Linked DNA regions of Homo sapiens. The protein of the gene in region 1 purifies or fractionates together with the protein of each later gene. This does not show direct contact. Each region holds a gene or a part of one and is shown in the gene's direction. Other genes may lie near its edges. The genes, in order: ARGLU1, SRFBP1, GPALPP1, POC5, ZC3H14, CCDC9 and SRSF4.

Region 1 (3,500 bases):
ATTTTAAGCAGGTGAATGACATGGTGCCTTTTTTGTTTTGATTGTTGTGTAGGATGGAAACTAAGAGGTGGGTACAGAAGTTTACACAGGAGTAGTGAGGATGGTTGTTGGAATGGAAAAGAGGGACAGATTTAAGAAACATTCAGGGTATATTAAATGGAATGTGGGACTTCAGAAAAAGAATGTTGGTTCTCATGTTTATAGTGTGGCTGTTGCAACTCATCTACCAAATGTTTCAGTAACAACCATGTGGCAGGTACTGGTAAAAATGTCAGAAACTTTTTAAATAGTGGATAAGGGAGAGGGAAAGGGGATAAGAGAATGGTGCCTTCACTGTGAGCACTAGTTTTGGATATACTGTACTGAGTTTATCCAGACTTGATCATGTGAGACTGAAGCCTAGCTGAGAGGGGCTTCGCTGAATGTCGTGAAACCTTGAGAGTATATGGAATGACCCAGGGAGAGTGTGGAGAGAGGAGAGCGGTTCATTCAAGGGACTGAAAGAACCTTAGGACATGCCTGTATTTGCAGTTAGGAAGAGGGAGAAGAGCCTATGGTGGAAGCAGAAAGAAATATGGTAAAAATGCATAGTGTCAAGTGCCCTTACAAGAAATCTAGTTAGATGGAAAGAGACCGTAAAATAAGAATCAACCATTGGGTTTAACTAATTAGGAATTCTTTGGTAAGATTGGAAACCTTATTGGTTTACCACTTATAATTCTGAGTTGCTGAATAAATCACCTCCCTCTAACCTTGTTTTTAAATCTGTGAAATGGAGATAATCTGTCTTGCTTGTTGTGAAAATTGGAGATGATGTATTTAAAGTAGGTGATACTTGGCATGTAATAGCTCTCAATAAGTAATGTTATTTAATGTAACTAACTTACATGGAGCCAGACCGAGCCTGATGAATTTCAGAAGTGATCTTATGAGTTGTCATCTTAATGCTGAGAAGGTAGGCCTTTACATTTTTAAAGACTTTTGCCCTCAATTTTGAATAGGCAGTTCACATGGTTCAAAATTCAGTTCAAAAGATCTTCCTCTCATCCTTGCGTCCCAGCCATTCAGTGTGGTTCTTCTCACCCCTCCCCCACACCAGTAGCACCATTTTCTTAAATGCTCTTTTGAGATGCTGCATGCATGTTATATTAACTGTTGAAAAAATAGACAACTGAAAATAACTTGCAGCAAATCAGGAAAATGTTAATGGCATAGTAACTTACTCTAGCCTGTGATATCTAGGTTCGAATATCCTCCGTGTTCAACTGGATGACGGATTAAGGGCCTTCTAAATTAGAGTATCTACACTGAACTGGGATCTATATAAGTGATTCTTAGAATACTTGGGCAGTTCATTGTGAGAGCAAAGAAGAGCTTTTAGGAGAAAATTGATTATATGGAACCGCATATTTTTGGAGGTTAAGGCTCTGACAGAACATTAAGGCATAAGACCTAGCTGATGTTAAGAATATGTATTCATTTATTTATTTATTATTTTTGTAGAGACAGAGTCACTATGTTTCCCAGGCTGATCTTGAACTCCTGGCCTCAAGTAATCCTTCTACCTCAGCCTCCCAAAGTGCTGGGATTACAAATGTGAGCCACCGTGCCTGGCCTATACTTTTTTCTTCCTTTTTTTGGTCGTTAAATCTGTGTGCTTGTCTTTGCCTTGCTTATTTGTCCTGCAGAAACCGGTGTAGGGTGGTAGTATAGTGCTTGCTTGAGATCGTTAGCTTTGGCATCTACTTAGGTTCAGAGAAACAGCTCAGCAACATCCAGTGTGCTCGAGTCTAGAAACTTCAGCTCCTTGTTCTTAGTTTCCTCAGTAAAAATGGGATACATACCCACTGCATAGGAATAATTATGTGATTTAAATGATGACATGGTATATAAAGCTTTTGGCACAATATTATATGTTACCTATTAAGTAATAAGTAAATGCTGTTTGCTAATAATTATTAAGCGATTCCTAGAAGTAAACCCCTAGGATTGAGTTCCCACATTTTAAAGATGTTTTAAAATAATGGTGCCAGTTACTCTGTAACAGTGCCGAAGTGCTGTAGCCTTACTGTTTTGTTTTTAATAGTTAGCATTTTAAAGTTCAGTGTGACTAGTGGTTTTTTTTTTTGTTTTTTTTTTTTTTTTTTGAGACAGGGTCTTGCTCTGTCGCCCAGGCTGGAGTGCAGTGGTGCAGTGGCGCAATCTCAGCTCATTCTCCTGCCTCAGCCTCCCGAGTAGCTGGGACTGCAGGCACCCGCCACCACACCCAGCTAATTTTTATTTTTTATTTATTTATTTATTTTTATTTTTAGTAGAGATGGGGTTTCACCGTGTTAGCCAGGATGGTCTCGATCTCCTGACCTCATGATCCACCTGCCTGGGCCTCCCAAAGTGCTGGGATTACAGGCGTGAGCCACCGCGCCCAGCCTGACTAGTGTTTTTAAAATACCTGAGAGCACAGAGAAAATAGGACCTAGTATTATACCATTTCATTGAAAACCTTGAAGATCTTGATTTAATGCTTTCGTCAGTATAACATATTATTGGCAGGGAAATGGATATTCAGCAGAGGAGCATGAGGAAAACATTAGAGAAAAGAACATCATGAGGGTGACAACTGCTATGGCAAGGGTTTTGAGGAGTGAATAGGCTGTTAGATGATACCTATTTTGCAAGACACTGACCCACTCAAGAAAGTTCAGTGCCTCTTATGGGAGTAGGCATAATAGTGGTTTTATCATTGATTATGATGATAAATTTGCCATCAGTAAAGATGAACTCATGCTTAATTCAGTTGTATATGTGCTCACTGGTTTGCTGAATTCAGTGTATGGTGAGGGGATAAAATTGAGCTTTCCTTCAGCATTGTTTCTAAAATTTGATTTAAAATTTTTTTCTGATTACTGAAGTAGCATTTTTAATTTTACCAAGAAAAACAGCAGAAATTATATTCTTGCTAACACTTGCAGGCAAACAGTTTTGCTGTGGTACCCTGAACCCTGCCTGTTGCAAAGCTTCATTTTCATATTGGGATGCCTTGCAGTTCCTCCAGGAACAAAGGGAGATAAGCAGCTTTGTGAGAAACTGCACTAGGTCATTTCTCATTCTCCAGTGTTTCAGTTGAGCGTGGGACTTTCCACTTGCCCTCCCTTTGGGCTATAAAGTCGCTGAGCTGTAGTTAGAATTGACTCCTTAGCAGCGGAGCAGCCCACGGCCTGCCTGTACTGCCTGTTACATGGGCCCTCTGGTTTGATGTCATCAGTGGAAATAGAAGCAGGGAACTGACATTCTGATTTGGCATTTGCTGTAAGTAAATTTATTTGGCTCATTTTCTCCTTACTGACCAAAGCTATGGAAATGAGGCCCTGTTAGCCACTGCGCTTTTGCTGAGGGATGGCTTGACTGCCAAAAATAACCTTGAGTGTGTATCAGGTCTCTTCTGCCTTCACCAAATTCTTAAGATGGCAACTTTTTACTCCTAGGGCCTTCTTTCTACTTTG
Region 2 (3,500 bases), on another chromosome or scaffold:
GCTGCATAAATGACTTCTTTTGAGAAGTGTCTGTTCATGTCCTTCGCCCACTTTTTGATGGGGTTGTTTTTTTCTTGTAAATTTGTTTAAGTTCTTTGTAGATTTTGGATATTAACCCTTTGTCCGATGGATAGATTGCAAAAATTTTCTCCCATTCTGTAGGTTGCATGTTCACTCTGATGATAGTTGCTTTTGCTGTGAAGAAGCTCTTTAGTTTAATTAGATCCCATTTGTCATTTTTGGCTTTTGTTGCCATTGCTTTTGGTGTTTTAGTCATGTAGTCTTTGTCCATGCCTCAGTCCTGAATGGTATTGCCTAGGTTTTCTTCTAGGGTTTTTATGGTTTTAGGTCTGACGTTTAAGTCTTTAATCCATCTTGAGTTAATTTTTGTATAAGGTGTAAGGAAGGGGTCCAGTTTCAGTTTTCTGCATATGGCTACCCAGTTTTCCCAACACCATCTATTAAATAGGGAATCATTTCCCCATTGCTTGTTTTTGTCAGGTTTGTCAAAGATCAGATGTTTGTAGATGTGTGGTGTTGTTTCTGAGGCCTCTGTTCTGTTCCATTGGTCTATATATCTGTTTTGGTACCAGTACCATGCTGTTTTGGTTACTATAGCCTTGTATTATAGTTTGAAGTCAGGTAGCATGATGCCTCCAGCTTTGTCCCTTTTACTTAGGATTGTCTTGGCTATGCAGGCTCTTTTTTGATTCCATATGAACTTTAAAGTAGTTTTTTCCAATTCTGTGAAGAAAGTCAATGGTAGCTTGATGGGGATAGCTTTAAATCTATAAATTACTTTGGGCAGTATGGCTGTTTTCACGATATTGATTCTTCCTATCTATGAGCATGGAATGTTTTTCCATTTGTATGTGTCCTCTCTTATTTCCTTGAACAGTGGTTTGTAGTTCTTGAAGAGGTCCTTCACATCCCTGTAAGTTGTATTTCTAGGCATTTTATTCTCTTTGTGCAATTGTGAATCGGGAGTTCACTCATGATTTGGCTCTCTGTTTGTCTATTATTGGTGTATGGGAATGCTTGTGATTTTTGCACATTGATTTTGTATCCTGAGACTTTGCTGAAATTGCTTATCAGCTTAAGGAGATTTGGGGCTGAAACAATGGGGTTTTCTAGATATACAGTCATGTCTTCTGCAAATAGAGACAGTTTGACTTCCTCTCTTCCTATTTGAATACGCTTTATTTCTTTCTCTTGCCTGATTACCCCGGCCAGAACTTCCAATACTAAGTATGTTGTAAAGAGATTAAGATTAAAGTTTGTTGTTATTCTTGCGAAGTAAAGTAAAAATTTATCTTTACTCTTCTAAAAAATAAACCATCACTTTTTACTCTATCCTGATGATTATTTATTGCATATTTTTGGTACTTTGAAGAGAGAATTTTTGATTGCTTTTATAGCAGCTTCCCTAACCTCCAGCACAGTACCTTGTCTACAGGTAATAAGAAGTAGGTATATAATGGGCAGATGAAAGCATGGATAGCATAACTGTCAACTAATGTTCAAATGAGAGGGAAAATCTCCTAAATGCTTTTTTTCCTCCCTTTCCATTAGAACTAGAGGAGAAATGCACAATTGAAAACAACAGTGCCATAGCATTTAGTGCGTAAATAATTTGCAAAACTAGAGCTAGATTTTCTCAAGTCATCTGTTTTCTAAAATTTAGGCAGCAGTGATATGTAAAAATCAGATTTAGGAGGTGTAGCAATCTGATGGAGTGCTTTAATTTCATAGGAAGGCCAACGGCCTATATGTACAACTGACATTTTATTTTTTTTTATTTTTTATTTTTTATTTTTTTTTTTGAGACGGAGTCTCGCTCTGTCGCCCAGGCTGGAGTGCAGTGGCAGGATCTTGGCTCACTGAAAGCTCCACCTCCTGGGTTCACGCCATTCTTCTGCCTCAGCCTCCCGACTAGCTGGGACTACAGGCGTCCACCATCACGCCCAGCTAATTTTTTTTTTTTTTTTTTTTGTATTTTTAGTAGAGACAGGGTTTCACCGTGTTAGCCAGGATGGTCTCGATCTCCTGACCTCGTGATCCGCCTGCCTCAGCCTCCCAGAGTGCTGGGATTGCAGGCATGAGCCACCACGCCTGGCCTATTTTATTGTTTGATAGCAAATTACCATTAAGCCCATTAGAAAATTGCTTTTCATTTCATGTAAGACAGTAAAGGTAGAAACTAAAGTGCCAAAGAACAAAATGAGTTTCCTCCACATATTGTAAAACATAAGAATGTCAAGAACCACGTTTGTATGCGCTTATGAAGTTACAAAACGCTTGTGTCGTGATTAGGTGCATAGTACTTTTTAATAATTTTTTTCTGAAATATTAAATTAGGGCATTTCCGTAAGAACCAATTTGTGTTTAGTTATTAAACTATTCTGGGAAGTTTTGCTAGGTGGCAGCATATGCCCAATAATGGTTAAATCGTAGATAATCACTAAGCACTCTAGGTATTTTAAAAAATTGTTGCTCATCAGAAATAAAAAGTAAAATCAACAATAAGTTATCATCCATATGATAAAATTAGGGTCCTCTTCATACAAAAATAATTTTGGCCAGGTGCAGTGCCTCACTCTATAATCCCAGCACTTTGGGAGGCTGAGGCCGGCAGATCACTTGAGCTCACGAGTTTGAGACCAGCCTGGGCGACATGGTGAAACCCCGTCTCTACAAAAAATACAGAAAAATTAGCCAAACATGGTAGTACGTACCTGTAGTCCCAGCTACTTGGGAGGCTAAGGTGGGAAGATGGCTTGAGCCCGGGAGGGGGACGGAGGTTGTGATGAGTCGAGATCACACAACTACTCTCCTGCCTGGGCAATAGAGCCAGACCTTGTTTCGAACAAAGACAAGAAACCCAATAATTTTGTTAACTATGAATTACTTCAAACGTATGGAAAATAATGTAACAGATCTTCTTATAATCTACTTCCTATGTTTAGGAAATGTCAGTGTTTTGCTATATCTTAATATTTAATTCCACCCATCTTCTTTTCTACCTCAGAGGTAATTATTCCTCTTGGTGTGTGTTTTTCTCTTATATATTTTTCACAATTTTAGTAACATACGTATCTATACCCAGTGTATAGTATTGTGTTGTATACTTTTAAACTGCATATTGTTTTACAAATTATAAATTGTAGTAGTCTCCCTTTATCCATGGGGGTTATGTTCCAAGACCCCCAGTGTATGCTTAAAACCTCAGATAGTACCAAACTCTGTCATTATTATTATTATTATTATTATTATTATTATTATTTTCTGTACAGTAATGGGCAGGTAACGGATACAGCAGAAATACACTGGATGTATGATTTACATCCCATGTGGGATGGAGTAGTACAGTGAGAGATTTCATTATGCTACTCAGAGTGGTGCACAATTTAAAATTTATGAGTTATTTATATTTGGAATTTTGGCTAACCGCAGGTAACTGAAACTGCTGACAACAAAATTGTTGGTGGGGGGGACTACTG
Region 3 (3,500 bases), about 62 Mb from region 1:
TCCTTTTGGCGGAGTAGAGGACAGTAAAAATTCCTGGTCAGGCGCAGTGGCTCATGCCTATAATCCCAGCACTTTGGGAGGCTAAGGTGGGAGGATCACTTGAGCCCAGGACTTCAAGAACAGCCTAGGCAACATAGTAAGACCTCATCTCTACTAAAAATTTAAAAATTAGCCAGGCATGGTAGCATGCACATGCAGTCTCAACTACTTGGGGGGCTGAGGCAAGAGGATTGCTTGAGCCCAGGAGTTTGAGGTTGCAGTGAGCTGTGATCACACCACCGCACTCCAGCCTGAGTGTTAAAACAAGACCTTGTCGCAAAAAAAAAAAAAAATTCCTTAAGAGGGGCCCAGGATTTATGGGGGTTGGAGAAGCCAGGACCTGCATGAATACAGCTAACCATAATCCTTTGTATGGAGTCTGGAAGAAACCTAATGGCTGGCTGGGAACGGGATTTTTTTTTTTTTTTAAACAGCATCTCACTGTCATCCTGGCTGGAGTGCAGTGGCATGATCTCAGCTTACTGCAACCTCTGCCTCCTGGTTCAAGTGATTCTCCTGCCTCAGCCTCCTGACTAGCTGAAATTACGGGGATGCACCCTCACATCTGGCTAATTTTTGTATTTTTAGTAGAGATGGGGTTTCACCATGTTGGCCAGACTGGTCTGGAACTCCTGGGCTCAAGTGATCCATCTGCCTCAGCCTCCCAAAGTACTGGGATTACAGGCGTGAGCCACTGTGCCCAGCCTCTTTTTTTTTTTTTTTTTTTTTTTTTCCAGTTTTTAAAAATTGTGATAAAATACACATAACATGAAATGTACCATCTTAACCATCTTTAAATGTACAGTTCAGTGGCATTAAATACATTCAGATGATTGAGCAACTATTACCAACATATCCACATCTCTTTTCATCTTGTAAAACAGAAACTCTGTACTCACTAAGTAATAACTCCTCATTCCCCCCTCCAGCTCCTGACAAGCACCATTCTACTTTCTGTCTCTATGATTTGACTACTTTAAGTACATCATTTGAGTGGAATCATACAGTATTTGTCTTTTTTTTTTTTTTGGACTGGCTTATTTCACTTAGCATAATGTCCTTAAGTTTCATCCATGTGGTAGCAGGTGTCAGGATTACCTTCAAGTGAAGATTCCTGAATCCAGTCTGTTATCTGTCCTGTGTTCCTCACACTCTGCTGTCCCAGAAGGAGATCTGACAAGCATGACCAGAGTAAAGAGGAGTGAGGGAGCACACAGGTCTGAGATGGAACAAGTTAACTTCATTTGAATACTCTGAAAATTGACTGCTGGAAAATGTCCCCCAACGTCATGTCATTAGAAACCCTGGGGTGCAAATATTTTCTCAAGAGCGATCCACAGACTCCATATGCTGTTCTATGGAAGCTGAGTGGAGCCTTGGCCATTTTGACTCTAACTCCAGTCTCCTATCTGCAGTGACCTTCACCTCCACTAATTTCACCTACATTTTAAGCTGGAGTAGTGAGTCTACCCTACTCCAGCTCCAAAAACTCAAATTCAAATCTCATTCTCAGCAAGAACCCCTTATTCATTCATTGTTCTCACTCAAGTTACTCCCATTTCATTTGCTTTTTATTTTTGTTTTTTAACCTCATTGAGCCTTCCATCCCTAAGTACTTCTATCCCTAAGTACTTCCATCTGAGAGGAGTGCTTACATCCCTACTCCTGTTAGACTCCATGGTCCACCCATTCATCCACTCTCTTGCTGGTGCTCTCAACTGCTTTATCCCATTGGGTATTCTGCCAAACCCATCTAACAAAAGCCCAGCCCTGGATCAGTCCAAGTGTTTACCCCTTGTGAGCCTACAGCCAGGCTTCCTAATGCTGCTAGAAGAAACCTCACGCCTCCACAAGCTAATGCTGCTAAAAGATGGCCTGTTCCCTAACTGGGTCCATAGGTCTGTCCAGTAATCCTCACAGGCTTCACCTCCTTTCTCTTCCCCAATCTGCAACCTTGGCTTTTTAAAACTTTCCCTTTCTTTCTAAAACTTTTATTTTTCCGTCTACTTCATTGAACAAGTAGATGCCATCATAAGAGAACTTCCTCAATTTTCTGTTACTGTATCTAAAAACTATCCTAAATCCACGCCAAGCTTTTTGTCTGCCCTTTGGTAACAATAGAAGAGGTATACTGCTTCCTTCTAAAGCTAATCCTTCCATTTTTACTCTGACTCCCTTCCCTGTCCTTAGGGCTGCCTGCCCTTAGCATTTAACCAAAACATTCAAATCTTTCCCATCTTTGAAGAAAACTCTACTTCATATCCCCCTCTAGCTGCATCTTTTTCTTTCTCACTGTCTCTGGGTCTTCTATTTTCTCCTTAACCCATTGCATTTCTGCCCTCACCAGTCCACTGAGACCCTCACCAATTCAAGGCTTCCTTTTCAGTCCTAGTCTTCCTTGACCTCACAGCAACATTTGGCCCCTCTCTATCCTCTCTTGGTTCCAACCATCCTGAACACCTTTCAGTTTTCTAAATGTGATGACTCTTTTGCTTTCAGGCTTTTGCAGATGCTTTTCTTTCTGCCTGGACTACTCTTCGTCCAGTCCCCACCTTCTTTGCCCAGCTAACTCAGGTCCCACCCCTACATCACTGCTTCTAGGAAACATTCTTTGATGTTAACTACCTACTGCCTGTAAAAGATGGGTTGGGTGCCCCTTCTTTATATTTGCATGATTTAACCATGTCATGGGGTCAGCAAACTTTTCTTGTAAAGGACCAGATAGTAAATACAGTTGACCCTGTAGATCTGCAGGTTCTGAGTCTTCAGGTTCAACCAACTCTAGATTGAAAGTACAATATTCAAGGGAAGTGGAACCAAGGCCATAGCCACAGATTTTGGTAGCTGCAAACAGGGGAGTTGGTCCTGGAACCAATCTCCCGAGAATACCGAGGGACAACTGTACTTTTGACTGTAGGTCAGTAGGCAAAATCAAGATTATTGTAAAAGTATGTGTACAACAAGAAGGAAGCAAACTTCACAAAATTTTATTGTTGCAATCTAAAACATAATACCATATAATTTTTTTGTAATACAGGTCTACTAATGAGAAGAACAGAATTGGTTTTGGGGGAGTAACATTTCATTTCATCGGAGTTCAAGTTAGCATTCCTAGTCATCAGAATCAGTTGTGGATGTTCATCTGTTAATGCTGATCTGTAATGAGATTTTTATGTATTATACTGAGTTCATTTTTTTATATGCATATCACAATTCTGTGTGATATGAAAGGGAAATAAGTGAAATATAAGGAACGCGTAACTCCTGTTCTCATGGAATTTATAATCTATTTGGAAAATTATCATTGCAATAGGAGAGCCTCCTTAATGACGACAAGCATCACTGCTTTAGGAGAGATATGGAATAGTTCATTACATGTTCCCAAAATAATTTTTTGAGATTATTCATAGTTCAGAAGGATATCTATAAAAAAGTGAAGCCAGACATGTCCTTACTTTTAT
Region 4 (3,500 bases), on another chromosome or scaffold:
TCCAACCTAGGCAACAAGAGCAGAAATCCATCTCAAAAAAGAAAAAAAGAAATTGAAATTATTTTTTCCCATTGACTTTTAATAATAAAATTAACATTGTTTTCATGGGAAAACATTTGGAATTGAAATGAAATAAAATCCATTCTAAAGAATGCAATAGGCCTCTTGAAGTTAAATATTAAAATGAAAAAATAACTCATTACAGCATTAAATTGTTAAGATTAAAAATAAATCCATAATACAAATAATTTTCTGCAGTTCACTACGACATGCAAAAAATGCAGTCCCCTGAGGTTTGGCCTATGGGAAAGTGTGTTGTACCTAGGGTCACTCTGCACTTCAAATACTGAAGGTAACATTTACATTATAAAAATTCTGTTAATATTGCAGGCATGTAGTTTATTTTATTTTTTTCTGAAAGGGCTGTCTGTGGCTCTTAATGTATTTTGTTTAACATCCTACATAAAAGTTTTACAGTAAAAAATGGTGTATCTTTTTGTGAAATGAAAATACATCAGCAATATTCAATGGGACTGGATAAAATTCCCCTTGTTTGAACCTTGATTTTAAGGTTAGGAATGAAAGCATTTTGTTGATGGAGATAATAGAGGTAAGAGGTACCTTTTAAAATAAATTGCACATAGCAGAAGAGGTAAGTGACAAACTTTTTAATATTTCACATGAGAATAATCTCAAAGTATATATCTATTTTTTTGACAGTATTCTTCTTTGTATCTCAAATTGTTTTGCTTTTTAAACATTCTTATTTTAGTTATCTGGAGCTTTGGAAAATGCAAAAGCTGAGATTCAAAGAATGCAACATGAAAAAGAGCACTTTGAAGATTCCATGAAAAAAGCTTTCATGAGGGGTGTATGTGCATTAAATCTTGAAGCCATGACTATATTTCAAAACAGAAATGATGCAGGTTAGTATTTCATTAAAGTTTCTCTGCCTAATTTCAAAAAAAGATTTGAGGAGATTTTGGTGATTGGTATGGTCTACAGTACAAATAATCTGCAGTAGGTATGTTTCATCCAGGTGCTGCTATTCTTAATTCTATGGTGTCATATCCAGACTTAAATCTGCCATGAAAATGAGCTCAGTCATGGTTACTTATGGTATCTTAGATCTGATCAAGTACACTGTCACTCCTAAGTATTTAAGCTAAATGTTGAAAATAATATTTTAATGTATAGCATTATTTTAAATCTCTTTTAACTAAGAATTTTAATGCCTTTTTAAGTACAAAACTTCTAATTTTGTCTTTTCTTAAGTAGCCAAATATTTTGGACTATTTTGGTAAGTATTTGTTATCTAGTCATGGTTTCTCATTTTAGAAATTCCTAATCTTCCTGTTTATGAAAGGCCTCAACTAAGCTCATTGCAGCAAACATAAATATAGACCTATCTATAGAAGTAATTTTATTTTTTTTAAAAATCCACATATTGTCTGACATAAGAGTGGTTTGTGTAGTAGTTTTGTCAGCATGGCGTAGAAAAGCCCATAACTAGAATCCTTTGCCACCAATTTACCCAGGGGCCTGTTTTCCTCATTCGGCCTTAGATTTCTTCTCTGAGCGAAGGAGATAATATAAACCTTCCTTACCTGCTTCCTAGGGGCTTCTTGTGGGATGCAGTAAAACATATCTGAAAACACTTTAAAAGACAAAATGCACTTTAACGTGTAAGATGATAGTCATGATGTAATTATTAATAGTTTTAATTCAAGTCAACGTCTCAAGATTTTGTAAATGATTAACATGATTTCAATCCAATGAATAACTTCTCTGTGCTTGTGATGCCCTTATTTTAAAACATCAACAAACATTTATTATTTAAAGCATGCATATTGTGGATAGGAGTAAGTTTAGGCAAATTGCTTTCTATCTGAAGTGGTTGTGGTTTGTGGGCCATATTTAATTTAGAAACTGAGAATCATGGAATCTCAAGGCTGAATAGTTTATTTTGGTAATACCTAGGTGAGTACTTGATTTTTCCAATAAATGGTCTTTTATTTGAGTATCAGGGTTGAAAACAAACTCACCACCTTCAATGATAGAATAGTCTGTTTCAGTTCTAAGTATCAGCAAGTTGTGTGTCACAAATTGAGAAATTTAATTGTTTACTTGGGAGAAATATGAGTTTCACAAGTAAAGTGACAAATTCCTATTAGAACTTCTTACATTAAATTACAAGAAACCTGTTTCTTATAACCTACTTAAAAAGATTTTGAATTGACTTAGGAGTATTTCCCACCTTAATACATTTACCATCTTAAAATGTAAATTGAAATGCAACTGTGTCTCCTAAAGGCCAATATCCATAAGAGGATTTGAAGAAAATGTCTTCTGCTAATTACACAACATGATTTCTTTTGCTCCTGTTACTTTTGAAACAATCGATGAGAAAGATGACAAGAATGGTAAAGCATGCATTAGCAATAATGTTGGTAGAGCTACCAAAGGCAAAAAAGTTCAGTATAATTCAGTGGATCTGCTTTGTGATATTTAGGTTTTATGACATTTTAATGACACCTATTTTTTTTAGTTCTCATAAGAAAAAAAAATTACTTTTGGCCCCCTTCTATTAAAACAACTGTTTTTTATAGGCCAGGCGCGGTCGCTCACACCTGTAATCCCAGCACTTTGGGAGGCCGAGGTGAGTGGATCACGAGGTCAGGAGATCGAGACGATCCTGGCTAACATGGTGAAATCCCGTCTCTACTAAAAATACAAAAAATTAGCCGGGCGTGGTGGCAGGCACCTGTAGTCCCAGCTACTCAGGAGGCTGAGGCAGAAGAATGGCGTGAACCCAGGAGGCAGAGGTTGCAGTGAGCTGAGATCATGCCACTGCACTTCAGCCTGGGCGACAGAGCGAGACTATCTCACAAAAAAAAAAATTGTTTTTTATAATGCAGTTTTTAATAATGTAAAGTTCCTAATGCATCTGTCTTGTTAGAGCAAAATAAATATTTGGTTTTTTATTTGTACCGATTCTTTGCTGTCTGTAATTTGCAGTACCTCTCATGTTGTGCAGTATCTTAAATCTTACAAATTAGAGGTTTTTATGAAGAAGTTAGAACATGACAAAAAGTCCTTAAAATTATATCTGCCAATTTTACTGTGCCAATTAGGCACAGTAAAAAAAAATACTTGACAAGTGAAAAATTTATTCCAGCTAAAATGAGATTAATTATTAAACTTAAGAGTTATCTGATATCAGCCTATATTAGCAAGAGTTGATCACCTGCCTCTCTTCCCTGACCTTCATACTGTTTCTACATCTCCTAATGTCTGCCACCATCTAAAGATAGACACTCAGAATCTCTACCAAAACAAGTTAAAACTCAGTGTGTGTTTTGTTTTCAAATTAAAAGTATTTTATATTGAATTAGTCCCTTTCATCAGAGGAGTTCAAAGGATCTAGGTAGGCACTGTAATCATTGTTAAACTTCTTAAATAAGCTAACTAACTAATACTCTGCAAATTTTCTATACAGA
Region 5 (4,218 bases), on another chromosome or scaffold:
GAATTATTTTTTTTTTTCCTGAGACAGGGTCTCACTCTCTCATCAAGGCTGTAGTGGCATGATCTTGGCTCACTGCAACCTCTGCCTCCCAGGCTCAAGCAATCCTCCCCTCTCGGCTTCCCAACTAGCTGAGACTAGAAGTGCATGCCACCACGCCCAGCTAATTTTTTGTACTTTTGAAGAGACATGTTTTTGCCATGTTGCCCAGGCTGGTCACGAACTCCTGGTCTCAAGTGATCCGCCAGCCTAAGCCTCCCAAACTGCTGGGATTACAGGCATGAGCCACCGCACTCAGCCAGAAATGAATTCTTGCTAACAACCTGAATGAGCCTGAACATAGATTCCTCCTCAGTCAAGCCTCCAGATGAGAATACAGCCTGCCTGACACGATTGTAGCCTTGTGAGACCCTGAGCAGAGGACCCAGTGAGGTTGACCCACGGAAACCATGAGATGATAAACGTTTGTGTTTTAAGCTGCTAAATTTGTGGTCATCTGTTATGCAGCAATGGATAACAGAGACCACTCTCAGGAATTAGTGGATATGAGGGAGAAAGGAGACCTCTCTGTGCTTCCTCTGTTTCCCAGGTTTTGTGATCAGGGATAGGGAGAATTCGGCTATTGATACAAATAGGGGAATCAACAGTAGTAACCTATTGAGTGGAGGAAGGGGAGATGAAGGCGACTTCTGTCTAAGCGCTGAGTTGGGAGAAAATAAGAGTAGTTACTTAGAATTTGGGAGTGGGGTTTGTGTGAGAATTCAAGGCTGATGGAAAATTCGGTCATTATCAGCACAGAGTTGACAACTTAAGTCCTAAGAACAAAAGTGTTGTCCCACGGAGGGTGTTCAGAGAAGCAGGAGGATGGGATTCGTCTCGGGGAGAGGCCACGGGTGGCCCTGGAAGAAGGAAGGCAGAACCAAACCCAGGAGGGCCAGTGTACTGCAGAGTCAAAGAGTTGACGGATTGGCTCTGTTGCTCTGGATAGTCCATTTTCCCTTCAAGGGTAATTGCAGTGCAACCTCTAATGGGCAGACTCCATTTTACAGGTAAGAAAAGTTGAAATACCTGGACCGATACCATACTGACAGTAAGTGAGGGCTGGATTTGAACTCGCGTCTCATATCACAGCCCAAGATCTTTCTGCTACACATTTAATTCATTCTTACCATCCAAGAGAGAATAAAATGAATAAGCGGAGGGCCAGCAGAGAGACTAACGAAAGGTCCCCGAGGTGCCCGGGAGGCGGAGCTGCAAGACCACCCGCACGCGCACGCCGCCGCCCTCCTTGCCTGAGCACAGGTTTCGCGGGTAGAAGGCGTGCGCAGGCGCGGACACGGGCGCATGCGCGTTCACTCCGGCGCGCAGTGCCGGCCGGGGCGGGGATACGCCGTGTGCGCGGCCGGGGGCGGAACGGAGGAGGAGGCGGTGGTGTCCCGGCTGCGGGGTAGGAGTCCGCGGCAGCCTCCGGGTAAGCCAAGCGCCGCGCAGTGCTGAGTTCCCGCACGCCGCAGAGCCATGGAGATCGGCACCGAGATCAGCCGCAAGATCCGGGTGAGGCCCGTGCCGGTCGGGGGTGGGAAGCCAGGTCTCGGCGAGCGGGCGGTTGTCAGGAGTAACGGGGACTGTGGGCCCGGGTGGACGCCGCGGCCTGGCCTCCGCTGGACGCTCCTGGCGGGCTGCGGCTCCTCCTCGTCCAGGCCGCCTCGGCCCTGGGGACATTTGCGGCCTCGGAGCGTGGCTGCGGCTGAAGTAGCCGCCGGGAAATGGAAGGACAGGCGCAGGCCCGGCTGGAGCCACCACCGCGGCGCACGGCGCCGCTTTGGATCCGCTGCGGGAGGTGGGCGCCGCGGGGCTGGGGCTGGAGCTGGAGTGGGGTGCGGGGTGGGGGGCGGTGCAGGCGAGGCTCCTCCCAGCCCCCGCCCGGGGGATCCGAGGTGCGCGCACCAGCAAAGTGGCCTCAGCCGCTGCAGAGTCCGGTCTTGTTTTCCTAGAGCCGCCTTTCTCACATGCACGTTTGCTCTTTTTCTCTCAGAGTGCCATTAAGGGGAAATTACAAGAATTAGGAGCTTATGTTGGTAAGTGTTTTTTTGGTTGTTAGTCTTACAGAATTTAGAGTTTGCAGCTAATAGAATTTTAGTGAATGCGTATTTCTCACCGTACTTTGGACATTGGGAGAGACTCCCTTCTACCTTCTTCAAATCTTATACTCCCTGGTTACTTCTTTATCATCTTTTTGCAACCTTGTTTTTTTTCTCCCAAACCTCCTTCTGTTATGGTGTTTTGAAATTTAGTTTCCTCCGTTAAGGCTCTGTTTGACCGAATTTTATTTTATGTTTTTCCTATTCTCTCTCTCTCTCATTTTAAATTCTAGGGACGGGTCTCGCTACGTTGCCCAGGCTGGTCTTAACTCCTGGGCTCAAGCAATTATCTGACCTTAGCCTCCCTAGGTGCTGGGAGTGCGGGGATTACTGGTGTGAGCCACCATGCCTGTTTAAAGTTTCCTATTCTTGTTACTTTCCTCTTGACATTTGTTTTTAGAACTCTGATGTTGGATGTGAATGTTTGATGCTTTCTGGCATTTGCTTCTGTAATGGTTCAGTGAGTTTTATTTTCCGATCTCTTTATGTTTTCCCTCTCTCTCTGAAACAGTAAGGCTTTTTCCGTCTCTTTATTCTTTTATAATTTGAGTGTTTACTCTGGGTCAGGTACTGTGCTTAACTATTGTATATGTATTAACTCAGGATAATCCCTACGAGAATCCTGGAAGGTAAGTGGCAGTATCTTTGACTGTGTAAACAAGGAAACTGAGGCTTTGCCTACTTGAGCAAGGTTTTATGGTTTGCCCCCAAAGCTGGTGCCTCCTATAAAAATAATAGCTACCACTAATGACAGTGGTTCTCAAAGTGTGGGAGACTCCAAGGGCCTCTGAAGTCAAAACTGTTTTCATATTAATACTAAGATGGTATTTGTTATTTTTCACTGTGGTGGTGGTGTTTGGATTGTGTAAAACTAATGGTTGATAAAACTTGTCAGCATAGTAACACCATAATGAAATCATATTCAAATCACTCCCCCCTTGTAGTTTTTTTCTTTTTGAGCCAATTACACTTAAAATGTCATTGATGAAGATGTGAAGTCCAGGGTTTACAAAATATTTTTTATCTTCTTAGTATTCAGTGCGAGGAAATAGAAATGCTCATAAAACATTTTTATTGTATACTGAAATACGATTGTTCTGAGGAAAATCATTTTAGTTGAGAACTAAGCTAGCCACCTCTTTCAGGGAACATCATTTTTAACTTCAAAGTACTGACAAACTGGTTACATACACTAGGATATTTGGCAGATATTTACTTGAAAGTGAGCAAAGAAAAGAATCCATAGTCTTTGTTGCCAATCACATGTGAGCTTTCAAATGAAAATTAGAATTTTGGAAAATCTGAGCCTGCCTCCATGAATTTCACAGCTTCCCAGTACTTAAAAAATTTCTGATTAAATAAATGGTGATTTAAAAAAAATTTGTTATTATTATTATTTTTTTTGAGATGGAATTTCACTCGTTGCCCAGGCTGGAGTGCAGTGGCGTGATCTTGGCTCACTGCAAGCTCTGCCTCCCGGGTTCAAGCGATTCTTTTGCCTCAGCCTCCCGAGTAGCTGGGATTACAGGCATCTGCCACTACACCCAGCTAATTTTTTGTATTTTTAGTAGAGACAGGGTTTCACCATGTTGGCCAGGCTGGTCTCAAACTCCTGACCTTGTGATTCGCGTGCCTCAGCCTCCCAAAGTGCTGGGATTACAGGTGTCAGCCACTGCATCCGGCCAACTCAATGGCGATATTAAAAAATAATTATTTTATACTGCATAATGAAATATATCAACGTGTCAGTGGTTTTTGTAGCTAAGTGAACCAATCTTTTCTAAATAACCAATGCATAATATTACAAAATTATGCAGTGGATTAAAGATTTATTTAAACTCTGGGGTGGGTCAGTGGATTTTTGTGCAACAGTTCAAAAAGGTCATTGACGTATTTGACATTCCACGTTGCTTTAACATTTAATAAGCTACCACTTGTTTAGTTTTGGTGTAGTGTCACAGAAGAATATCCACCTTATCTGAAAAGACTATCAGAATACTCCTTTTTCAACTGCATATCTGTGAGACCAGATTTTTTCATATTCTTCAGTCATAAGCACATAGAACAAGATATATAAAAA
Region 6 (2,965 bases), on another chromosome or scaffold:
TACAGGTGCCAGCCACCAAGCCCGGCTAATTTTTGTATTTTTAGTAGAGATGGGGTTTCACCCTGGTCTCGAACTCCTGGCCTCAGGTGATCCGCCCACCTGGACTCCCAAAGTGTTGGGATTACAGGCGTGAGCCACCGTGCCCGGCCCTAATATTATCTTAGCTGGGGGTTCAGGAAGGCCTCTTAGCAGAGCCCTGAAAGGAGGTGAGGGAGTGAGCCAGTGAAAAACGTGGGAAGAACGTTCCAGGAGCAGGCGCTAAGGCCCTGAGGCAGGAGCTAGGTGTGGTGGAAGAGCCTGCTTAGCTGGAGAGGTGAGGGAGACTGGTGGGAAAGGTCAGATAGGGAGTTGTGGGTCATGTACTTGGGCAAGGGTCTGTGGTGATCCCCCCAAATTTTTGTTTTGGCGCCCACATTCTGAATCTTTTTGTATTTGTCACTATGCTGTCAAATTTGCCTCTTGCCCATCACCTGGTCCTATCCTTTGTTTTTTTTTTTTGAGATAGGGTCTCCCTCTGTCACCCAGGCTCGAGTACAGTGGCTTGATTACTGCTCACTGCAGCCTTGACCTCCCAGGCTCAAGTGATCCTCCCTCCTCAGCCTCCCGAGTAGCTGAGATTACAGGCACGTGCCACCACGCCCAGCTAATTTTTGTATTTTTTGTAGAGGTGGGGCTTCACCATGTTCACCACGCTGGTCTTGAACTCCTGGGCTCAAGCGATCTGTCTGCCTCGGCCTCCCAGAGTGCGGGGATTACAGGCTTGAGCCACCATGCCCGGCCCTGTCCTACTTCTAGTGTCCCCTGTCTGGTTGACCGTCTGTCTCTGATCCGATTCCTGACCCTGACCTCTCCCATCTTCTTGATCCTCTTGTTACCCTGTTCCCCCAGCTGCCCGCTCACCCGTTATCTTTCCCCCAGGTTCAAGGATGGCCCAGTCCCTGCCCATGAACCATCCCACCGCTATGGTGAGTGGGTGCCCTTGGATGAGCTGAGGCTCGGTCTGGGAGTCAGGGGTGGTGTGTGCCACACCTTCCCTTCCCAATGACACCTGGGTTCTGTTGCAGATGACCAGGCCTGGGCCCGGCCCCCGAAGCCCCCTACTTTTGGGGAGTTCCTGTCCCAGCACAAAGCTGAGGCCAGCAGCCGCAGAAGGAGAAAGAGCAGTCGGCCCCAGGCCAAGGCAGCGCCCAGGGCCTACAGGTGGGGCACCCCTTCTGCGGGCTTGCATACCCCCAGGGCTCTCCGCAGGGCGTTCTCTTCTTTGGCTTGCTGTGAAGGTGTGGGTACATCTGTCTGTCCCTGTCTTTGTCTTGGCCCTGTCTATCTCGCAGGTCCGTGGTTTGAGGGGCTTGGGATCTGGCTCTTGGTTTTACCCTCATCTGTCCCCTTTCTGCCGTCACCCATCTCCTCTCCTGCTACCTGCCCCACTTTCGTTCTGTCCTTGACACATGGGGACACACATCCGCCATTCCCTCAGCCCTCCACCATGCCAGATGCTCTGGGCAGCTCCTCCCTAGGGAGGGTGGAGGCAGGAAGCCCCTTCCTCCTGTCTACTCTCCACCCAGGCATCACCCCTCCCTCTGTTCCCTCTAGTGACCATGATGACCGCTGGGAGACAAAAGAAGGGGCAGCATCCCCAGCCCCTGAGACTCCACAGCCTACTTCCCCCGAGACTTCCCCCAAGGAGACACCCATGCAGGTGAGGCTGGGCTGTGGTTCAGGGCACGGGCCTGGGGTGGGGGCTCAGGACCTGTGCCTTGCCCTGACTTGCCTGTGTCCCCAAAGCCACCCGAGATCCCAGCTCCTGCCCACCGGCCTCCTGAAGACGAGGGGGAAGAGAATGAGGGGGAAGAGGATGAAGAATGGGAGGACATAAGTGAGGATGAGGAAGAGGAGGAGATCGAGGTGGAAGAAGGTGATGAGGAGGAACCAGCCCAAGACCACCAAGCCCCAGAGGCTGCCCCCACCGGGATCCCCTGCAGTGAGCAGGCCCACGGAGTCCCCTTCAGTCCGGAGGAGCCCCTGCTGGAGCCCCAGGCCCCTGGCACGCCTTCCAGCCCTTTCTCACCACCCAGCGGCCACCAGCCTGTGTCCGATTGGGGTGAAGAGGTGGAGCTGAATTCTCCCCGGACCACTCACCTGGCTGGCGCCCTCTCCCCGGGTGAGGCCTGGCCTTTTGAGAGTGTATGAAGCTGGCTGCCTGTGTGTGTGTGTGTGTGTGTGTGTGTGTGTGTGTGTGTGTGTGCGCGCGCGCGCGCGCGCGCGCGCGCGCTAGAGGGGTGTGGCTGGTGGGGGACCCTTGGGGCTGGGCCCTGGGACCCAGTGTGCCCCACAGCCCTGTCAGCTGAGGGGGTAGCGCAGCCCATGCTCTTCTGTACTGTCATGCCCGTCTCTGGAATGTCCACTCCCAGAGCCTGCCCCAGCCCTTCGAGCCCCCTCCCCAATAAAGAATTCACATCCTCCAATGACATTCCCCCAGGTGTGTCCTTGAACCCCCTTCAACTCCCCCTGGGCCTTCTCTCTTGGGGTGGGGAGATGTCAGGCGGGAAAGGGGGCTTGACTGGGGCTCCCCTTCCCTAGGAGGTGGCCAGTCAGCCCCTGCCTTCCCGGAGAGTGGGCCCAGCCTCCGAGGAACCCAGGAAGCTGAAGAGGAAGGGTCTGAGGCAACTCCAGGTGGGGGAGTGCATGGGGCATGGGATGGAGGCCGCTGCTTCCTCTTTCTCTGGGGCTGAGGGGCAGAGGGCTTGGGGGGAGTGGGGTGAATGTGTGTAGGTAGCAGTTGGACCATAGAGGTGAGGTGAAAAGGGTGAGCTCGGATAGGGATGGGGGGCTGGAGCCGGGTGGCAGGGGTGGGGCAAAGGGGCAACTTTATGGGCCAAGCCAATAGGAATTTGGTATGGAGGTTGAGGAGGTGGGGTTAAGGAAAGGATTAGAATTTTGGAGTCGAGCTCAGGGGTTTTGGAAA
Region 7 (3,972 bases), on another chromosome or scaffold:
TTATCCTTTCAAAATATTCAAAAAACAAAAACAAGCAAAGAAACAAAACCCTTTATGGTTCTAGGTACATGGCGTTAGTGAGAAGGGAACCAATATTTATTGAGCTCTTACCATGTTTCAGACACTGTTCCAAGTACTTTCACATACACTACCCCATTTAGTGACCTGTGTAATCCTTGAGATGGGTATACATTATTCTAATTTTACAGGTTAGAAAATAGACTGGATAGGCCAGGCGCAGTGGCTCACGCCTGTAATCCCAGCACTTTGGGAGGCCAAGGCGGGCGGATCACCTGAGGTCTGGAGTTTGAGACCTGCCTGGCCAATATGGTGAAACTTCCTCTCTCCTAAAAATACAAAAATTAGCCGGGCGTGGGGGCGGGCGCCTGTAGTCCCAGCTACTCTGGAGGCTGAGGCAGGAGAATCGCTTGAACCCGGGAGGCGGAGGTTGCAGTGAGCTGAGGTCGCGCCACTGCACTCCAGCCTGGGCGACCGAGCGAAACTCGTCTCAAAAAAAAAAAAATAGGTTGGATTGTGGTCAAGTAATTTACTCGGCGTCATGCCTAGTCTAGCTCCAAAGCTCCAGCCTTCTCCGCTTCTCACACTGCTTCTATTTAAGCAGTGTCCTCTTAAAAATAATACTGGTCTCATTTATTGGGCACTTGATATGACAAAACTACTAAGTGCTTTATGTACGTATTCTCATATAATTCTCAAGACAACTCTGGAAGGTAGGAACTACTCTCCCCCTTTTACAGAAAAGATAAAGGAGGGTCCGAGACATCGCGCGTAACAAGCCCAAGGTCACGGGTACACAATCGTTTGGAAGCTAGGTTTGATTCCAAAGCTCCAGCTCCGAAATCCAAACCACACCCGGTTCAAAGGACAAAAGCACAAACGCTCGCTCGCTGGGCTCTAGGAGGTGCGGACACTTCCGGGGGAGGGGCGAAGCCAGCTGGCTGCGGAAGGCGGTGCAGGAACCCCTTTGGCGAGCTCGCGCGAGGACGTGCCGCAGCGCCGCCTGTCGATCACCTTGCCCCGCCGCACGTCGGCGCGCCCCCGGGCAAGCTCCTCCCCCAGTCCTGGCCGAGCGGGAAGCGAACGCGCGCTCTCTCCGGTTACCTTCCGCCTCGGGGAAGGGCGGGGGAAGTGGAAGCGCGCGCTCGCGAGCTGCGTGCTCGCGTACGTCGCCGGGGTTCGGCTGCGTCCGTCCCGCCGCCCGCCCGTTGCCGCCGCCGCCGCTGCCGCCGTGCTCTCGCTTTGCCCGCCGCCGCCTAAGGGGGGCTGGGGCCGGGGCCAGCCATCACTGCCGTTGCCGGGATGCCGCGGGTGTACATCGGCCGCCTGAGCTACCAGGCCCGGGAGCGCGATGTGGAGCGCTTCTTTAAGGGCTACGGGAAGATCCTGGAGGTGGATCTGAAGAACGGGTGAGGAGGGCGAAAGAGGGTCCGGCCGGGCGGGGACAGACCCCATAGGTGGTGGGGAGGCCGCGGGGACGGGAGAGGGACGCCTGGTCCGCGCGGAGCGGCTACCGGCCTGGCCAGGCTCCGCCATAGTGGCGGCGCCTCGGGGGCGCGGGTAGGCCCCGGTTCCCACTGCGCCTGCGCGGGTGGGGGTGGTGGAGGCATAATGGGAGCTGTGCTGAGGCCCTGAGTGGGACGGGGAGAAGGAAAGCCCGAGTGGGGCTGGTGCTCCGGGCAGGGGGGCACAGCTCCAGGGCGCCCGGGAGACCTGGGTTTTCCCTTCCTAGGCCCGGAACTGGGGCCCTATTCGTTTCTGGGTAGACACCAACCTTTCCCGCTCTGAGGACTACTGGAAATAAACAGGATTTCCTGCTCCCTTTCACCTCTTGCCCGGTCTCATGGATCAGACGGTCACAGCGCCGTCTTCCCCGAGGACTGGAGCCTTGGAGGGAGGCCCTTTTTAGCCGTGTGCCACGCTTTTTTGGGCGGGAGACTCCAGTTTGAGTAGTCTAGTGACAGTTTCGAAAGTATCGTCTTGCCGTGCTGAAAGCCTTCACCGTTCCCTCTGCAAGAGTAAATTAAAGTCTTAACTTCTTATCTTTAAGACTCCGTGCAGAGTTTCCACGCTGTGGTTTCCGTTTTCCAACTTACCGAAAAATTGCTTGGCCGTTGTAGAATTTGTTAGGAGAATAGTGGCCACCCTGGCTAGTATCTGCGTCTGGTTAACGCAGACGGAGACGAAATTGTTAACTTACTGCCTCCCCCAGAGTATGATCTATTACTTGTATTCTTAATCTACTTCGGCAAAAATAGTGCCAGCATGAGCTACAGGTTTTAGGGAAAACTGTTGAGGAATCAGGCCTGGAGAAAATACTCAACGGGGAAAACTGGGAACCAGATGTTAGGTAGGGCTTGGAAGGCATGGATATAAAATTAAAAGGACTGGGGTGACATTTTAGGGCACTAAACCTTGGGTGTTAGAGAACTCTTGGCTTAAAAAAGAAACTCTACTTTGCAACAGTTGTAATATAGCTACCGTTTACTCCCCAGGGTTATACTAGTAACTGACACCTGAAACATTTTGAAAGTTACCTAAGTATGTTTCACGTATGAGAAAACTGGTAGCTACCGTATTCTCAAATGATGATTTGGGTTTAAAAAGCCATTTCAAATTAATTATTAGAATCGTTTTCTTTCTGAGGACGTCTTTAGTAAAGTACTGATTTCTTTTACAGTAAAAGGCTTTAAAAACTACTCCTTTTCTACAGTAAAACGTTCAGTTCTTAAGGATATATTGAAGTGGCGGGTAGACGTTATTGTATACATACCATATATGTGAAAGTTGAAACTCCAGTTTTTTTCAGAGCCCAGCTAAATTGACAGCATAACTAACTTTTGTGGACAAAGTGTGGATTTTGAAGCCAGCCAGGCCTAAGTCAAATCCTGGTTCCACCACTTACTACGTATGGGCAAGTTACTTCTCTGAACCTGGTTGTTCATTCATGTGGAAAAGGAAGATTAGAGATAATAAATGTAAAGCATTTGGCTTAGGCAGTAAGTGGCAGCTATAATCAGAGGGATGAGGAAACATCTTTGCTTGTTGGTGTTTGATAACATAAAGCGTGTTTGGTGAGGTCTTTTCTAATGTTACTCAGGTGATAGTGTGCAGGAAATGACAAGACTGTTAATGGGAAACTGATTCATCAACCAAATGTATTGATAACCCATCAACAAAATGTCCACCACTGTGCTAAATGAATTGGGGGAGGAGGCAGAAAACAGTTCTGCTCTTGAATAAATTAAGCATTATGACATGTGCACTTTGAATTAAGAAATGTTTGCTTTCGCTTTAAACTCTAGTAAAACTTGGAATGATTTGCTTGAAAAGATGTGTTGAAATGGCTTTGAAGAATAGATTAGAGCTTGAAGTGAAGAAATTTAGGTTTCTGGGAATAGTATATGTCGTAGTTGGGGCTCAGGCATGGTGACTTGTGCCTGCAATCCCAGCTGAAGTGTGAAGATTACTTCAGGCCAGGAGTTTGAGACCAGCCTGACCCCATCTCTAAGAAAAAAATTTTTTTAATTAGCCACGCGTGGTGACACTCGCCTATAGTCCTAGCTACTTCAGAGGATGAGGCAGGAGGATCACTTCAGCCTAGGATTTCAAGGCTACAGTGAGCTATGATTGTGACACTGCACTCCAGTCTGGGTAACAGCAAGACCCCCATCTCTAATAAAATAAGTACAATGCTGACTTTTTTTGCTTTTTGATGAATAGGGAAAAAATATTTTTTTAATGTCATAATTGGTGTTGAAGACATGGTCCAGTAAGAAGCAATTATGAAAAATAATAAACAATCTAGCATGGATCAAGCCTTATGAAGAATCTAGAAATTTAACAACATAAACCAGAAACAACGACTATTAGATTTTACACTAAAAATTCGAAATCAATGAGTAGGAATTCAAAGGCTCTGGAAGGAAGAAGTGAGCAACCCAAAAGGAAGAT

Evidence for each region.
Region 2: the proteins of ARGLU1 (region 1) and SRFBP1 purify together in Homo sapiens (co-immunoprecipitation; one large-scale study listed by IntAct). This does not show direct contact.
Region 3: the proteins of ARGLU1 (region 1) and GPALPP1 purify together in Homo sapiens (affinity purification with mass spectrometry; one large-scale study listed by BioGRID and IntAct). This does not show direct contact.
Region 4: the proteins of ARGLU1 (region 1) and POC5 purify together in Homo sapiens (co-immunoprecipitation; one large-scale study listed by IntAct). This does not show direct contact.
Region 5: the proteins of ARGLU1 (region 1) and ZC3H14 purify together in Homo sapiens (affinity purification with mass spectrometry; one large-scale study listed by BioGRID and IntAct). This does not show direct contact.
Region 6: the proteins of ARGLU1 (region 1) and CCDC9 purify together in Homo sapiens (affinity purification with mass spectrometry; one large-scale study listed by BioGRID and IntAct). This does not show direct contact.
Region 7: the proteins of ARGLU1 (region 1) and SRSF4 purify together in Homo sapiens (affinity purification with mass spectrometry; one large-scale study listed by BioGRID and IntAct). This does not show direct contact.

The regions. Positions count from the first base shown.
Region 1 is NC_000013.11:106,561,638-106,565,137, reverse strand, and holds part of ARGLU1 (arginine and glutamate-rich protein 1), read left to right. Parts: intron 1-3,500. UniProt on the Homo sapiens protein: Dual function regulator of gene expression; regulator of transcription and modulator of alternative splicing. General coactivator of nuclear receptor-induced gene expression, including genes activated by the glucocorticoid receptor NR3C1.
Region 2 is NC_000005.10:121,964,975-121,968,474, forward strand, and holds part of SRFBP1 (serum response factor-binding protein 1), read left to right. Parts: intron 1-3,500. UniProt on the Homo sapiens protein: May be involved in regulating transcriptional activation of cardiac genes during the aging process. May play a role in biosynthesis and/or processing of SLC2A4 in adipose cells.
Region 3 is NC_000013.11:44,996,038-44,999,537, forward strand, and holds part of GPALPP1 (GPALPP motifs-containing protein 1), read left to right. Parts: intron 1-3,500.
Region 4 is NC_000005.10:75,686,438-75,689,937, reverse strand, and holds part of POC5 (centrosomal protein POC5), read left to right. Parts: intron 1-772; coding exon 773-926; intron 927-2,609; coding exon of another isoform or gene 2,610-2,728; exon of another isoform or gene 2,729-2,990; intron 2,991-3,500. UniProt on the Homo sapiens protein: Essential for the assembly of the distal half of centrioles, required for centriole elongation. Acts as a negative regulator of centriole elongation.
Region 5 is NC_000014.9:88,561,619-88,565,836, forward strand, and holds the start of ZC3H14 (zinc finger CCCH domain-containing protein 14), read left to right. Parts: upstream 1-1,418; 5' UTR 1,419-1,515; coding exon 1,516-1,551; intron 1,552-1,728; exon of another isoform or gene 1,729-1,837; intron 1,838-2,032; coding exon 2,033-2,075; intron 2,076-4,218. UniProt on the Homo sapiens protein: RNA-binding protein involved in the biogenesis of circular RNAs (circRNAs), which are produced by back-splicing circularization of pre-mRNAs.
Region 6 is NC_000019.10:47,269,489-47,272,453, forward strand, and holds the end of CCDC9 (coiled-coil domain-containing protein 9), read left to right. Parts: intron 1-918; coding exon 919-965; intron 966-1,064; coding exon 1,065-1,200; intron 1,201-1,593; coding exon 1,594-1,699; intron 1,700-1,785; coding exon 1,786-2,190; 3' UTR 2,191-2,465; downstream 2,466-2,965. UniProt on the Homo sapiens protein: Probable component of the exon junction complex (EJC), a multiprotein complex that associates immediately upstream of the exon-exon junction on mRNAs and serves as a positional landmark for the intron exon structure of genes and directs post-transcriptional processes in the cytoplasm such as mRNA export, nonsense-mediated mRNA decay (NMD) or translation.
Region 7 is NC_000001.11:29,179,101-29,183,072, reverse strand, and holds the start of SRSF4 (serine/arginine-rich splicing factor 4), read left to right. Parts: upstream 1-1,172; 5' UTR 1,173-1,320; coding exon 1,321-1,427; intron 1,428-3,972. UniProt on the Homo sapiens protein: Plays a role in alternative splice site selection during pre-mRNA splicing. Represses the splicing of MAPT/Tau exon 10.